Linked DNA regions of Homo sapiens. The protein of the gene in region 1 purifies or fractionates together with the protein of each later gene. This does not show direct contact. Each region holds a gene or a part of one and is shown on either strand. Other genes may lie near its edges.

Region 1 (4,020 bases):
TCATCAGCTCCGTTGTTTTCCCTTCCAGTTCCAACTGAATCAGTAAAAAGCAGCGAGGTGTGGTGAATGGAACCCAGGATCCCTCTCAGGAGCCTCGGGAATCCGTTTCCTCTCCGCATCAGTGGCAGAGATGTCCCTGCCCCAACCGGTGGGTGTGCGGATTCTGTGCGGATTCGCACGGTGTTTGGCACGTGGTAAGCTCCGCAGATGTCAATATCATGACTGTGGTTGTTCCTGGCCTTGTACCCAAGTGACCTTGGGCAGGATACTAGGGTACTTTGCTTCTCTGGGCTTCAGTTTGTTTATTTCTAAAATTGGGGTATTAATAGAGTCTATTTCAGAGGGTACTTGTTAATTTAATAACTGTTCCACGCTGTATCCCCGGCACTTTGAACAGTGCCTGACGCATAGAATTTGCTTTAAAAAAATTTTTAAGACAAACTCATTCTTACAATGCATTGAATATCTACTGGCACCAAACGTTGGCCTCACATCAACTTAATTTTTTTTTCAGAAAGAAAGCACAGAAGGGTGTGTGGAAAAAGAAACTCAGTTTCCCTCACCGTACGAGAGGCTTCTGACAGCAGAAGTGTGGGGGTTTCTCCCCACCAGCAAGCAAACAATCAGTCCTCTGGTGAACACCAGCTGAGGGTCCCCAAATTCAATTCTGACACCACTATGGGTAGATAGTGGCCGATCCCACATGTTGAGGGTTCAGTCCCCCAGACTGCCAATCGAAAGCCCTAGGTTGTTTTACCTGTGTTTCTGACTGACTATAAACTGGGGTTCCCACAATTCCCTCCTGCAGTTTTACTAATTTGCTAGAGCAGCTCACAGAACTCAGGGAAACACTTTACTTACATATACTGGTTTCTTTCTTTAAAAAAAAAAAATTGATCTTGTTGTTGTTTTGAGACAGGGTCTCACTCTATTGCTCAGGCTGGAGTGCAGTGGCCCCATCTCAGCTCACTGAGACCTTCGCCTCCCAGGCTCAAGTGATCCTCCCACCTCAGCCTCCAGCATAGCTGGGACTACAGGTATGCACCACCACGCCCAACTAATTTTTTTTTTTTTTTTTGAGATGGGGTTTCACCATGTTGCCCAGGCTGATCTTGAACTCCTGAACTCACGCAATCTGCCTGCCTCAGCCTCCCAAAGTGCTGAGATTACAGGCATCAGCCACCATACCCAGCTACATTTACTGGTTCCTTATGGATATTACAAATGCTCCGGATGAAGAGATGCATAGGGCAAGGTATGGGAGAAAGGGCATGGAGTTTCCATTCCTCTCCAGAAGCACCACCCACTGGAGACCTCCTTGTATTCGGCTATCTGGAAGCTTGTCAAACCCTGTCCTTTTGTGTTTTTATGGAGGCTTCATTACATAGGCATGACTGATTAAATCACTGCCCATTGGTAATCAGCTTAACCTTCAGCCCCTCTCCCCTCCCCAGAGGAAATGCCAGCCATCAGTCAACTTATTAGACAGTTATCACTCAAAAGATATTTATCACTTTGAAGATTCCAAGGATTTTAGGAGTTGTATGCCAGGAACTGGGGGATGAAAAAATATATTTTACAATATCACAAGGGATAAAGGTCACACAGCAAATTGTGCAACATGGGTACACATTCAAGACAGTCAGAATTCATGAACCTATGCTCTTTCCTTTATACCACAAAACTGGAAAATGCATATGCCCTCAGACTCACCTCTAATATGATCTTTGTCAGATCAATGCTATTTTCTTAAGTTAAAAAGAAAAACAAGAAACTCCTCTCATGTATTGAGTACTTAGCACTTTATGGCACGCAGTCCACTTGTACCTATAACAACACCACGAAGTAGGTACCATTGTTATCAACCACATGTTATAGATAAGGAAACTGAAGCTCAGAGAGGTTAAGTAATATTCCCAAGGCTGCCTAGCCAGGTCATGGCAAAGTCAGGGTTTAAACCCACAATTGGCTAATACCCAAGCCCACATTTTTTTTTTTTTTTTTTTGAGATGGAGTCTTTCTCTGTCGCCCAGGCTGGAGTGCAGTGGCGCAATCTCATCTCACTGCAAGCTCCACCTCCCAGGTTCATGCCATTCTCCTGCCTGCCTCAGCCTCCCGAGTAGCTGAGACTACAGGCGCCCACCACCAAGCCCGGCTAATTTTTTTTGTATTTTTAGTAGAGACAGGGTTTCACTGTGTTAGCCAGGATGGTCTCGATCTCCTGACCTCGTGATCCGTGGGTCTCGGCCTCCCAAAGTGCTGGGATTACAGGCGTGAACCACCACGCCCGGCCACCAAGCCCACATTTTTAACAACCACTCCAGATGGCTTCATCTATCCTTAAAGATGAACTCACTGTCACATTGGATCCTATAATAAAGGGGATTCTAAAATCATCCAGTCCTTTGAGCAGCAAAGGCAACTTAACTTTCCTTTTACAGAGGAAGTAATTAAGGCTCCAAGAGGTGACAGTGTTAAGGCCACAGATCGCTGATATTGCACCTGTAAGCTGGGTCTCATGCCACTTGGGGTTTTGCATCCCATCTCCCTAAAAATCTCCAACCCATCCTCTTAGACAAGTCCCAGCCCAGAGCACTAAAAGGGACCCAGGAGTGCTGCCTCCCAGGAGAAGGGGCCTCCTGGCTCTCAGAACATGAGATTTACAGGCAGACAGGCAGCCTGGCAGAGGGTGGCAGCTTGATGCCCACACTTCATAGCTCCTGAGTTTACCTTGGAGGAGAGAAGAGAAGCAATCTTCAGCCCGGAGCCTGCTGATAGATGGGCACAGCAGCGAGTAAACGGTTCTCCGGCTGAAGGCTGGCTTTTTATCATCACTTGTGGATCCTCCCACGTCTCACCCTAGGCAGCCAATCCCTGTCGGAGTTTCTATTTCTGCACTCTGCAGTTTCATTTTCCCCTCTCTCCCAGCTCCTGCACTCTGCAGAGTTTCATTTTCCCCTCTCTCCCAGCTCCGCCCAGCGGGAACATTTGTGTGCTGCCTGCTGGCAGAAAAATGCACTTCAAGCTGAGGACTTTTGGAGCCGCTAAGGGTATTCAAAGCATGTCACACTATGATGAGAGCCACGGCCATACTGGGCTTAGTGAAGCCTGATCACCAGCTCCCCCTGGGGCACACAGGCCTTTCACCATTCAGTCCAATTAGTAAACAACACCTATCATTTATTGAGCACTTGCTGCATGCCAGGGTCTGTGCAAAGTGCTCTATTTACATGATCTTTTTCCAATCCCACAGTAGTCATGTGACATACCATATGCTGTTTATAAACCCCCAGAACTTTGGAAATTAAGTCACTTTGTTCCATTGTTCTCTCAGGCTGGCTGCTTCTGGGTCATGGGCATATGGTAAGACCAGTGAAGCCTGTGTTCATGTGGCCATCATGATAGATCTTGAGTTTCAAGATGGGTCCCCTGGCCCTAGGTAATGAACTGAGCATTCTTTAAAGCCTTTGGATGGTGATGCTTGAAGTGCTATGGGTCAGAAATGCAACCTCTATTTGGAGAACATAGAAATTCCAGTAAGGATGAATCATTGCCTTCTCCCAAGTGGAAGGGGTCTGAAATAATTGACCTGCCACCAGATGGCTGGCTATTCTCATTGAGAAATTTTGCCATATTGCTACCTGCTGCTGGCAGATTGGCTATATTTTGGCAATTGCCAGATCAGTTTTGGTGAGAGGGAGCCCAAGTTGTTGGACTCATTTCTAACCCCCATCCTTACCACCTTGGACACTCATAGGTCTATTGCAAGGCAATAGTGAGGCTAAGTTTAGAGGCTGGCTGACATCCACAGGATGGGACATCCTGGCCATTGGGCTGTAGAGCCTCCTCTGCAGCAGATGATCTCTGGTCAGCATTAACATGAGACATAGAGATCCAGGTGCTTTATGCCCATTCAGAGTTCATTCTTATGCCCCTAACCCACACCTGCTTATTCCCAATCTTCCAATCTTGTTCCATCCATGCCTTTGACCAACCAGCCAAGCCATTTGCCTCTTATTA
Region 2 (2,965 bases), on another chromosome or scaffold:
TCTCCTGGAGGGGGAGGAGAGCCTCAAAAATTAGGATAGCCTGTCTTCAGTATTTCTCATGGCCATTAATACAAAACAGATGAATGGTTTTGCGTGTAAAGATGCAGAAAATTTAGACAACTGAAAAGAGACGCTCTAATGGATAGAAATAGCTTTGGAGAAATGTCAGTGAAGTGACAGGCTCCTCATAAAATGAGGCATTAGAAATGATACATAGAGTTCAACAAGTCAGGATTCTACGCTTACTATACTTAGAAAATTGAAAAAATACAAACCACTGAAAATTCTTAAGATACTGCTAAATCCAGGACAGGTGGTGATACAAAAAAAAAAAAAAAAAAGCTATGGACACATACTAGCACAGTAAATGAATACGGAGATTACTTAGGGTAGAAATAGTCTGATTTGCTGCATCTTCATAAGGGAAACTGAAGTAGGTAAAATCTCATACTACAAACCCCTTCCCCAATTTAAAGCATTAAAGAGTCCTCACACCAAGCTAATTTAAAGGTTTAGTTTATACAATTGATAATTCTGCAAACCACAATATGTCAATAACTACATACTGTAATAAAAATAAACAAAGTCATACTTAATTCTATAATGCATTAAGAATAACCTAAAAAAACAAATTGTGAATAAAGGCATATTTAATAAATTAGGGAACATCTTAACTTCTAATAGACTGGGGGAAATTTTTAAGTTTTCTATGTACACAAAGGCAGTGGGAACAAATGAAAAAAACAAATTACTACATTGTTGCAGCACATTAAAGACTGGATGGTGTATATTATTCACAATTACATCCTCTTTCCCATAGCCTGGCAGAGGAAAGTAGTTACCAAGCACAGGAACAATTTCAACATCTCACTGGAGTCTCCAAAAGCAAGCAGATACTGCAGGATGTCATTAAGCAACTTACTGTCACTTCACACCATATGTGGCAGTAAGAAACTTAAAAAAAAAATTAAAAGGCACGCATAAGCTGATTTCAAATATTTTAAGTCCAGGCTACTCTCTTTAGATACAATGTTTTGAACACTTGTATAGAACAGTTTTTAAATAAACATTTCCAAAAACTTGAATACAGAACTTAGGAACCATGAATCTTCACCAAAAAAAGTTACATTGAAAAAAAAAAAAATTCATGAAATAATTACAGCTAACCTATATTTAGAGATAAAATATTTTTTGGCAACCTATATTCTTTAGGAAAATAAAATGTTTGATTTTAGAGTAAGTAGTATGTTTACTAAAAGTTCTCACTATATTTCATGCCTATTTAAAATTCTACCTTTAAAGATCTTTAAACTGATTTTATATTGTTCCTTACCACAATTAGACTCATTGAAGAGCTCAAAACTAAAGCAACAGCATTTTTCCTAGCATGCACACACAAAATAATCTACCATTTAGTCATCTCTTTAGCTTATGTTTTCAATTTTTAAGAATAATCAAACTGTCTAAAAAATATTGGGCAAAAATAAAAATATTTTCTCTACTTGATGACATGTTTATGCATCTCAGGTAGCATTTTAGATCAATATCCTTTTCTTGAATGTTTTAATACCAGTATACTTAAACATATGTTAAGAGTAAATGAGGCAGATTCTAGTGTATAAAATGAAAGCCATTCATAAGATTTCACATGCAAAAAAAAAAAAAAAATTCATAAAGTTCAAATGTGTTTGTCCTAAAAATAAACGTGCAAGTACACTACACAATGAAAATGACTCGACCATCTTAGCCTTTTTTTGACAGTATAAAGCTAAGTTCTTTCTGATGGCCCACTCTGAAAACGATCTCAGATTCCATAATTTAAAAGCATTTTTCTAGCCTTTATTAAGTATACTTTGTGATAATACTTATATCCTAAAACAGAGGCACAGGTTTGAGAATTTAAATCTTCTGGATGTTGTTAGTCTTTCTTAAAGGTAACACTGATGCCATTTGCTCTATCAGCATAAAGTTGATATTTGTAAAAATAGCCATTAAATACTAATTCACAAGTATATTTAATGTACATATAAACCCTATGTTAAAAGTATAAACAAGAGGAAATATAGTTCTAAGACTTCTAAATGGTTGACCATCAAAAAGTGAACCACCCTCTTTAAGACTTAACATAACATTAAAAAAAATTGCTTCAACATATGAATTTAAGACTTTACTTTATTCAGCAAAATCATTTATTTACACAATGGGGAATGCTGGTTTGATTTTGTCAATGAAATAAAAACAAAATGAACAGAGACAATACTGAACTGTATATATACTTTGTATCAGAGTTGACCAACTGTTTCCTTACCTGTATCAGGAACATCAAGAGCAACAGTATCACAAGGACACTGGTTTAACAATACACCACATAGGTCCAGTAATACCCTGGGAATTTCCCAATGCAATCACCAACTTTTTCTTTTTTTATAAATATATAAAAAAACAAAAAGTCAGCAAAACCAGCATTATGATGTAGCAAACAGAGTATAACTCTGAAGTCAGTGGGGTCAGTAAAAGCCTTATCAGACCATCCATAGTTTTACAATGTGATCTGCTCTTCCTCAGACCACTAATATAGAATCCAAACAGGTGAAAAATACGTCACTCCTTAGAATACAACAATGATCTGATAAGGATTTGACTTAGTGGAAGGAAAAAAAAAAAAAAAAAGGGAATTGCAGAGCATAGCCCCTATTAGAACAAGCTAACTTTCCAGATTTTACAAATTAAAAAAACAAAAACAAAAACAAAAAACCACTTCAACATGAAGCTACCATACAAAGTTTTTCCATTTTTCTTTGTAAAAAGTTCAGAGTTTGCAATTTAATCCTGGGTTTTTAATGAGAAGGACAGTTTTGGCCTGGACTTCCCCTTGCCCAGGATAATTTTTTGTTCTTCTTTTTGTTGACGTTGTCGTTCTTGTTCTAGTTTCATCCTTTCCTCATGAATCTTTCTTTGTTCTTCA
Region 3 (3,396 bases), on another chromosome or scaffold:
AGATCCACACTGGAACTGGACATAGATTACATTTCATCTTTACTCTGAGAAATACAAGACTACAGTTGAACACTCAGTTAACCTCAGACAGTAAAAGGGGCTAAAAAATTTTTTTAAATCAATTTATTGGCCGGGCACGGTGATTCACGCCTGTAATCCCAGCACTTTGGGAGGCTGAGGCAGGCAGATCACCTGAGGTCAGGAATTCGAGACCAGCCTGGCCAACATGGTGAAACCCCGTCTCTACTAACAATACAAAAATTAGCCAGGCGTGGTGGCACACACCTGTAATCCCAGCTACTTGGGAGGCTGAGGCAGGAGAATCGCTTGAACCCAGGAGGCGGAGGTTGCAGTGAGCCGAGATTGCGTCACTGCACTCCAGCCTGAGTGACAAGAGCAAAATATCATCTCATCTCAAAAAAAATTAAAGGACAGCAGACACTAATGAATGCTTCTTTCCCTCCCCTCTACTAAATCATACAGAAACTCAGACAGCATTGTGGGGTGGCTCAGATACTCCCAAGTGGCCTTTATTTCACAAAATTCTGTTTTTTTTTCTTTTTTTTGAGACAGTTTCACTCTTGTTGCCCAGGCTGGAGTACAATGGCGTGATCTCGGCTCACCCCAACCTCCGCCTCCCGAGTCTAAGCAATTCTCCTGCCTCAGCCTCCTGAGTAGCTGGGATAACAGGAGTGCGCCACCACACCCAGCTAATTTTGTATTTTTAGTAGAGATGGGGTTTCTCCATGTTGGTCAGGCTGGTCTAGAACTCCTGACCTCAGGTGATCCGCCGCCTCGGCCTCCCAAAGTGCTGGGATTACAGGCGTAAGCCACCGCACCTGGCCCACAGAAGTATTTTCATTAAAATTATTTTATCTACTTTTACTGTGTGATGCTATAAAATGAAAAACAATTGGCAAATTCACAAATTATGTTCTTCAAGTCATTTCTTCTCCTCTGAGGCTGAACGTGGTGGGCAGCATTAGTTCCCAAGCCTAGGCCAGTGAATTCTTACCGCTCTCACATTACACCTGAACTTGGACTTTCACATGAGGTCGGGCACCCATTATATCAAAGGTGCTTCTGAATCCTGTCATGTGGCCCAGGCAGAGGCTTAGATTTTATATGTCCTTGTGTGTGCAGTTTCCCCCAGCCCTTTACTGAATCAATAAGCCGGTCTCTGAAAACACTGGTCTATGTGAGATGAAGTCTATCATTAGCAAGGATGGAGCAATAAGATGTCAGCCAGAATTGTAGAAAATAAAAATGATGGGGCCTGGGTGCGGTGGCTCATGCCTGTAATACCAACACTTTGGGAGGCTGAGGTAGGTGGATCATGAGGCCAAGAGATCAAGACCATCCTGGCCAACATGGTGAAACTCCATCTCTACTAAAAATACAAAAAAAAATTAGCTGGGTGTGGTGGTGCTCACCTGTAATCCCAGCTTCTCAGGAGGCTGAGGCAGGAGAATCGCTTGAACCCTGGAGGTGGAGGTTGCAGTGAGCTGAGATCACGCCTCTGCACTCCAGCCTGGGCGTGGAGTGAGAGTGAGACTGTCTCAAAAAAAAAAAAAGAAAGAAAAACAAAACCATGGCAACTTCCACATGAGACTTACTTACATTAGGTCTTCTATTGTTACTTTAACAAATTGCCACAATTGTAGCGGCTTAAAACATAATGTTGTCATCTGACGGTTCTATAGGTCTTAAGTCCGCCTGGTCTCACTGAGCTAAAATTAAGGCATCAGCAGGGCTACGCTCCTTCTGGGAGGCTCTAGGGGAGAATCTACTTCCTTGCCTTTTCCAGCTTCTAGACAGCACACACATTCCTTGGCTTCTGACCCTTCCCTTCCCATCTTCAAAACCAGCAGTGTCTAGTCAAGTCTTTCTTAAGTCTCTTTGATGTGGACTCTTTTTTGCCTTCCTCTTCCACATTTAGGGATCTTTGTGATTCCTCCGGCCCACCCAGAAACACGGGATCCTCTTCCTGTTTTAAGGTCAGCTGATTAGCAAACTTAATTCCCTTTTGTTTCGTAACCTAACAAATACACAGGTTCTGAGGAGATGTGGTAGGAAGGGGTGTTATTCTGCCAACTTCTTTTGTGAGGACTGTGTCTATTTGGCAAATTTTTTTTTTTTTTTGGAATGGGGTCTTGCTCTGTCACCCAGGCTGGAACACAGTGGTGCAATCATGGCTCACTGCAGCCGTGATGGAGGGTGGTGCTCAAACCAATGTTAATTTACAAAGGATGGGAGCTCAGAGTGATTCTCCCAAGACAAGACTGCCAGAGGGTGGGGTCCTGCTCATCTGAGAGATGGTGATCTGCACTGGCAGAAAGCAAAAGGACAAGATTAAGTCCATTCTGAAGACACCCAGCATTGTGGTGTCTTGGCTGCCCAACCTCCACTGGTGAGACGTAAAGTTCTTATGTATATAGAAAAGCAATAAAGCTCCCCCTGTGCAAATGGAACTCCTAAGCCAGTGGTGATGTTGAGTTAGAAAGTCACAGCCTATTACAGACAGAATTTACACCAGGGGCAAGGCCTGACCATCACACCCTCATGAGAGCTACCAGTCACCAGGGCTTGGATGGGAGCAACACAGCGGACATATGATCACCTCTCCACAATCACCCAAAGACAGTTTTTTTTTGTTTGTTTTTGAGACAGAGTCTCATTCTGTTGCCCGGGGCTAGAGTGTGCAGTGGCACCATCCCAGCTCACTACAACCTCCACCTCCCGGGTTCAAGCGATTCTCCTGTCAGCCTCCTGAGTAGCCGGGATTACAAGCCCGTGACACCACACCCACCCAGCTAATTTTTGTATTTTTAGTAGAGACGGGGTTTCACCATGTTGGTCAGGCTGGTCTCGAACTCTTGACCTCGTGATCCGCCCACCTTGGCCTCCCAAAGTGCTGGGATTACAGGCGTGAGTCACCGCACCTGGCAGAGCACAACCTTTTTAACAGAGCTAAGGCAGGCCAACGTCAGGGTGACCTCTTGGCAAGATAAAAACTATGAGTAGTAAACGGCCGATTCCAGCTACTCAGGAGACTGAGGCACAAGAATCGCTTGAACCCAGGAAGCAGAGGTTACAATGAGCCGAGATCACGCCACCACACTCCAGCCTGCGCGACCGTGAGACTCCATCTCAAAAAAAAAGAAACGAACGGCTGGTTCCTGTTTACACCAGGCACATTCCTGTAGTGTTGCTCAAGGTCAGGAGGGATTTGTTTCTCCATCAAAGGAGGAGGTGCCCAGAAGGCACTCACTCAAATCCAGAACACTGCCTCTTGGGCTTTCCACGGCCTCTCCCATTATGTATCTCAAGGTTGAATCCAGGAAAGAAAGGCAGGACAAGTTCACGTCCTGAGGGAAGTGGCCCAAGTAGGTCCTT
Region 4 (3,500 bases), on another chromosome or scaffold:
CAATGTATCAACATTCTAGTGTAATAAATGAATTTGGCTGGGCGCGGCAGCTCATGCCTGTAATCCCAGCACTTTGGGAGGTAGAGGCAGGCGGATCATGAGGTCAGGAGTTCGAGACTAGCCTGGCAACATGGTGAAACCTGGTCTCTGCTAAAAATACAAAAATTAGCCAAGTGTGGTGGTGTGTGCCTGTAATCCCAGCTACTAAGGAGGCTGAAGCAGGAGGATTGCTTGAACCTGGGAGGTGGAGGCTGCAGTGAGCCGAGATCACACCACTGCACTCCAGCCTGAGCAACAGAACAAGAGTCTGTCTCAAAAAAATAAATGAATTTGGACATTTCTTTGGAGCAATCAGATTTAGAATTACTACCTACTCATGAACTAACATCCTATCCATTTTTAAGACATGTAGTCTTTCTTAAGAAAATGACCTCCAAAATTTGACATTAAAGCTATAATACTGTCACTGACAAATTCAAAGATAAAATACTTTTTTTTTCTTTTTCTTTTGAGACAGAGTCTTGCTCTGTTGCCCAGGCTAGAGTGCAGTGGTGCAATCTCAGTTCACTGCAACCTCCGCCTCCCAGGTTCAAGTGATTCTCCTGCCTTAGTCTCCCTGAGTAGCTGGGACTACAGGTACACGCCACTACGCCTGGCTAATTTTTGTATTTTTTAGTAGAGACGGGGTTTCACTATGTTGGCCAAACTGGTCTCGAACTCATGACCTCAGGTGATCTGCCTGCCTCAGCCTCCCAAAGTGCTGGGATTACAGGCATGAGCCACCGTGCCAGGCCAGATAAAAGACTTTTTATGTGCTATAATGTGGGATATGAATCTCTGAAGCTCCAATACAATACAGAGGCATTCATAAGATTTTAATTAAATAGAGACATATTAAAAGATCATATTTCTTTTATGTTACTTTAATTTTTTGAGATGGAGTATCACTCTATGGTCTAGGCAGGAATGCACTGGCACAATCTCGGCTCACTGCAACCTCCACCTCCCGAGTTCAGGCGATTCTCCTCCCTCAGCCTCCTGAGTAGCCAGGACTACAAGCATACACCACCACACCTGGTTAATTTTTTGTATTTTTAGGAGAGACGGGGTTTTACCATGTTGGCCAGGCTCTCTTGAACTCCTGACCTCAGGTGATCCATCCACCTCGGCCTCCCAAAGTGCTGGGATTACAGGTGTGAGCGACCGCGCTCGACCGAAAGATCTTATTTCTTACATCAAAATTCAGTAATCTGGCTGGGTGCGGTAGCTCACGCCTATAATCACAGCACTTTGGGAGGACGAGGCAGGCGAATCACCTGAGGTCAGGAATTGGAGACAAGTCTGGTCAACATGGTGAAACCTCATCTCTACTAAAAATACAAAAATTAGCCAGCTGTGGTGCCGGGCTCCTGTAATCCAGCTACTCAGGAGGCTGAGGCACGGGAATCGCTTGAAGCCGGGAGGTGGAGGTTGCAGTGAGTTGAGATTGTGCCACTGCACTCCAGCCTGGGTGACAGAGTGAGAGACCCTGTCTCAGAAAAAAACAAAAACAACAAAAAAAACTGGCAGTGATGCAAACCATTTAAAACTGGGACTGTTGGCCGGGTTCAGTGGCTCACGCCTGTAATCCCAGCACTTTCGGAGGCCGAGGCAGGCAGATTACCTGAGGTCGGGACTTCAAGACCAGTCTCACCAATATGGTGAAACTCTGTTTCTACTAAAAATACAAAATTAGCCAGGCATGGGGGCGCATACCTGTAATCCCAGCTACTCGGGAGGCTGAGGCAGGAAACGCTTGTGGTGAGTCGAGATCACACCACTGCACTCCAGCCTGGGCAACAAGAGTGAAACTCTGTCTCAAAAAAAATAATAACAAAAAAAACCCCAAAAAACTGGGACTATCTCTGCAAGTGTGAGATATACATGGTCACCAGAGACATGCATGATTACAGCTGGAGGAATGGTTAAGAGCAAAAACCAGAGGGAGGCCAAGCATGTGTCTCCTGCCTGTAATCCCATGACTTTGGAAGGCTGAGGCGGGAGAATCACTTGAGCCCAGGAGTTTGAGACAGTCTGGACAACATTGTGAGACTCCATTTCTACAATTGGAAAAAAAAAAAAAAAGGCTGGGAGTGGTGGCTCATGCCTGTAATCCCAACACTTTGGGAGGCTGAGGCAGGCAGATCACCTGAAGTCAGGAGTTTGAGACCACCTTGGCCAACATGGTGAAACCCTGTCTCTACTAAAAATACAAAAAAATTAGTCGGGCGTGGTGGCCTGCGCCTATAATCCCAGCTACTCAGTAGGCTGGGACAGGAGAACTGCTTGAATCCAGGAGATGGAGGTTGCAGTGAGCCGAGATCACGCCACTGCACTCCAGCCTGGGCGACAGAGCGAGACTCCGTCTCGGAAAAAACAAAAAAGGCTGGGAGCAGTAGCTCACATCTGTAATCCCGGCACCTTGGGAGGCCAAGGCGGGCGGATCACCTGAGGCCAGGAGTTCAAGATCAGCCCGGCCAACGTGATGAAACCCTGTCTCTACTAAAAATACAAAAATTAGCCGGGCATGGTGGCGTAATTCCAGCTACTTGGGAGGCTGAGGCAGGAGAATTGCTTGAAACTGGGAGGCGGAGATTGCAGTGAGCCAATATCACACCACTGCACTCCAGCCTGGATGCGAAGAGTGAAACTCCGTCTCAAAACACACAAACAAACAAACAGGCCAGGCACGGTGGCTCACACCTGTGATCCCAGCACTTTGAGAGGCCAAGATGGGCAGGAGTTCAAGACCAGCCTGGCCAACATGGTGAAACCCCATCTCTACTAAAAATACAAAAAAATGGCCAGGCACTGTGGCTCATGCCTGTAATCCCAGCACTTTGGGAGGCCGAGGTGGGCAGATCACCTGAGGTCGGGAGTTCGAGACCAACCTGACCAACATGGAGAAACTCTGTCTCTACTAAAAACACAAAATTAGCTGGGCATGGTGGCACGTGCCTGTAATTTCAGCTTGGGAAGGCTGAGGCAGGTGAATCGCTTGAACCTGGGAAGCAGAGGTTGCGGCGAGCTGAGATTGCGCCATTGTACTCCAGCCTGGGGAACAAGAGCGAAACTCCATCTCAAAAAACAAAACAAAATGAAACAAAAATACAAAAAAATTAGCCGGGTGTGGTGGCAGGCACCTGTAATCCTAGCTACTTGCAAGGCTAAGGCAGGAGAATCGCTAGAACCCGGGAGGTGGAGGAGGCAGAGCAAGATTCCATCTCAAAACAACAACAACAACAACAACAACAAAAACACGCTGGACGCAGTGGCTTACGCCTGTAATCCCAGCACTTTCGGAGGCCAGGGTGGGTCACCTGAGGTCAGGAGTTCGAGACCAGCTGGGCCAGCAAGGTGTAACCCCGTCTCTACTAAAAATACAAAAATTAGCTGGGTGTGGTGGTGTGTGTCTGTAGTCCCAGCTACTCGGGAGGCTGAGGCAGGAGAATCGCTTGAAC

What was found.
Region 2: the proteins of IFI6 (region 1) and ARGLU1 purify together in Homo sapiens (affinity purification with mass spectrometry; one large-scale study listed by BioGRID and IntAct). This does not show direct contact.
Region 3: the proteins of IFI6 (region 1) and KNOP1 purify together in Homo sapiens (affinity purification with mass spectrometry; one large-scale study listed by BioGRID and IntAct). This does not show direct contact.
Region 4: the proteins of IFI6 (region 1) and CDK12 purify together in Homo sapiens (affinity purification with mass spectrometry; one large-scale study listed by BioGRID and IntAct). This does not show direct contact.

What each region holds. Positions count from the first base shown.
Region 1 is NC_000001.11:27,669,393-27,673,412, forward strand, and holds the start of IFI6 (interferon alpha-inducible protein 6 isoform a precursor), read right to left. Parts: upstream 2,801-4,020; 5' UTR 2,731-2,800; intron 1-2,730.
Region 2 is NC_000013.11:106,541,173-106,544,137, forward strand, and holds the end of ARGLU1 (arginine and glutamate-rich protein 1), read right to left. Parts: coding exon 2,824-2,965; 3' UTR 501-2,823; downstream 1-500. UniProt on the Homo sapiens protein: Dual function regulator of gene expression; regulator of transcription and modulator of alternative splicing. General coactivator of nuclear receptor-induced gene expression, including genes activated by the glucocorticoid receptor NR3C1.
Region 3 is NC_000016.10:19,701,437-19,704,832, forward strand, and holds the end of KNOP1 (lysine-rich nucleolar protein 1), read right to left. Parts: 3' UTR 501-3,396; downstream 1-500.
Region 4 is NC_000017.11:39,520,486-39,523,985, reverse strand, and holds part of CDK12 (cyclin-dependent kinase 12), read right to left. Parts: intron 1-3,500. UniProt on the Homo sapiens protein: Cyclin-dependent kinase that phosphorylates the C-terminal domain (CTD) of the large subunit of RNA polymerase II (POLR2A), thereby acting as a key regulator of transcription elongation.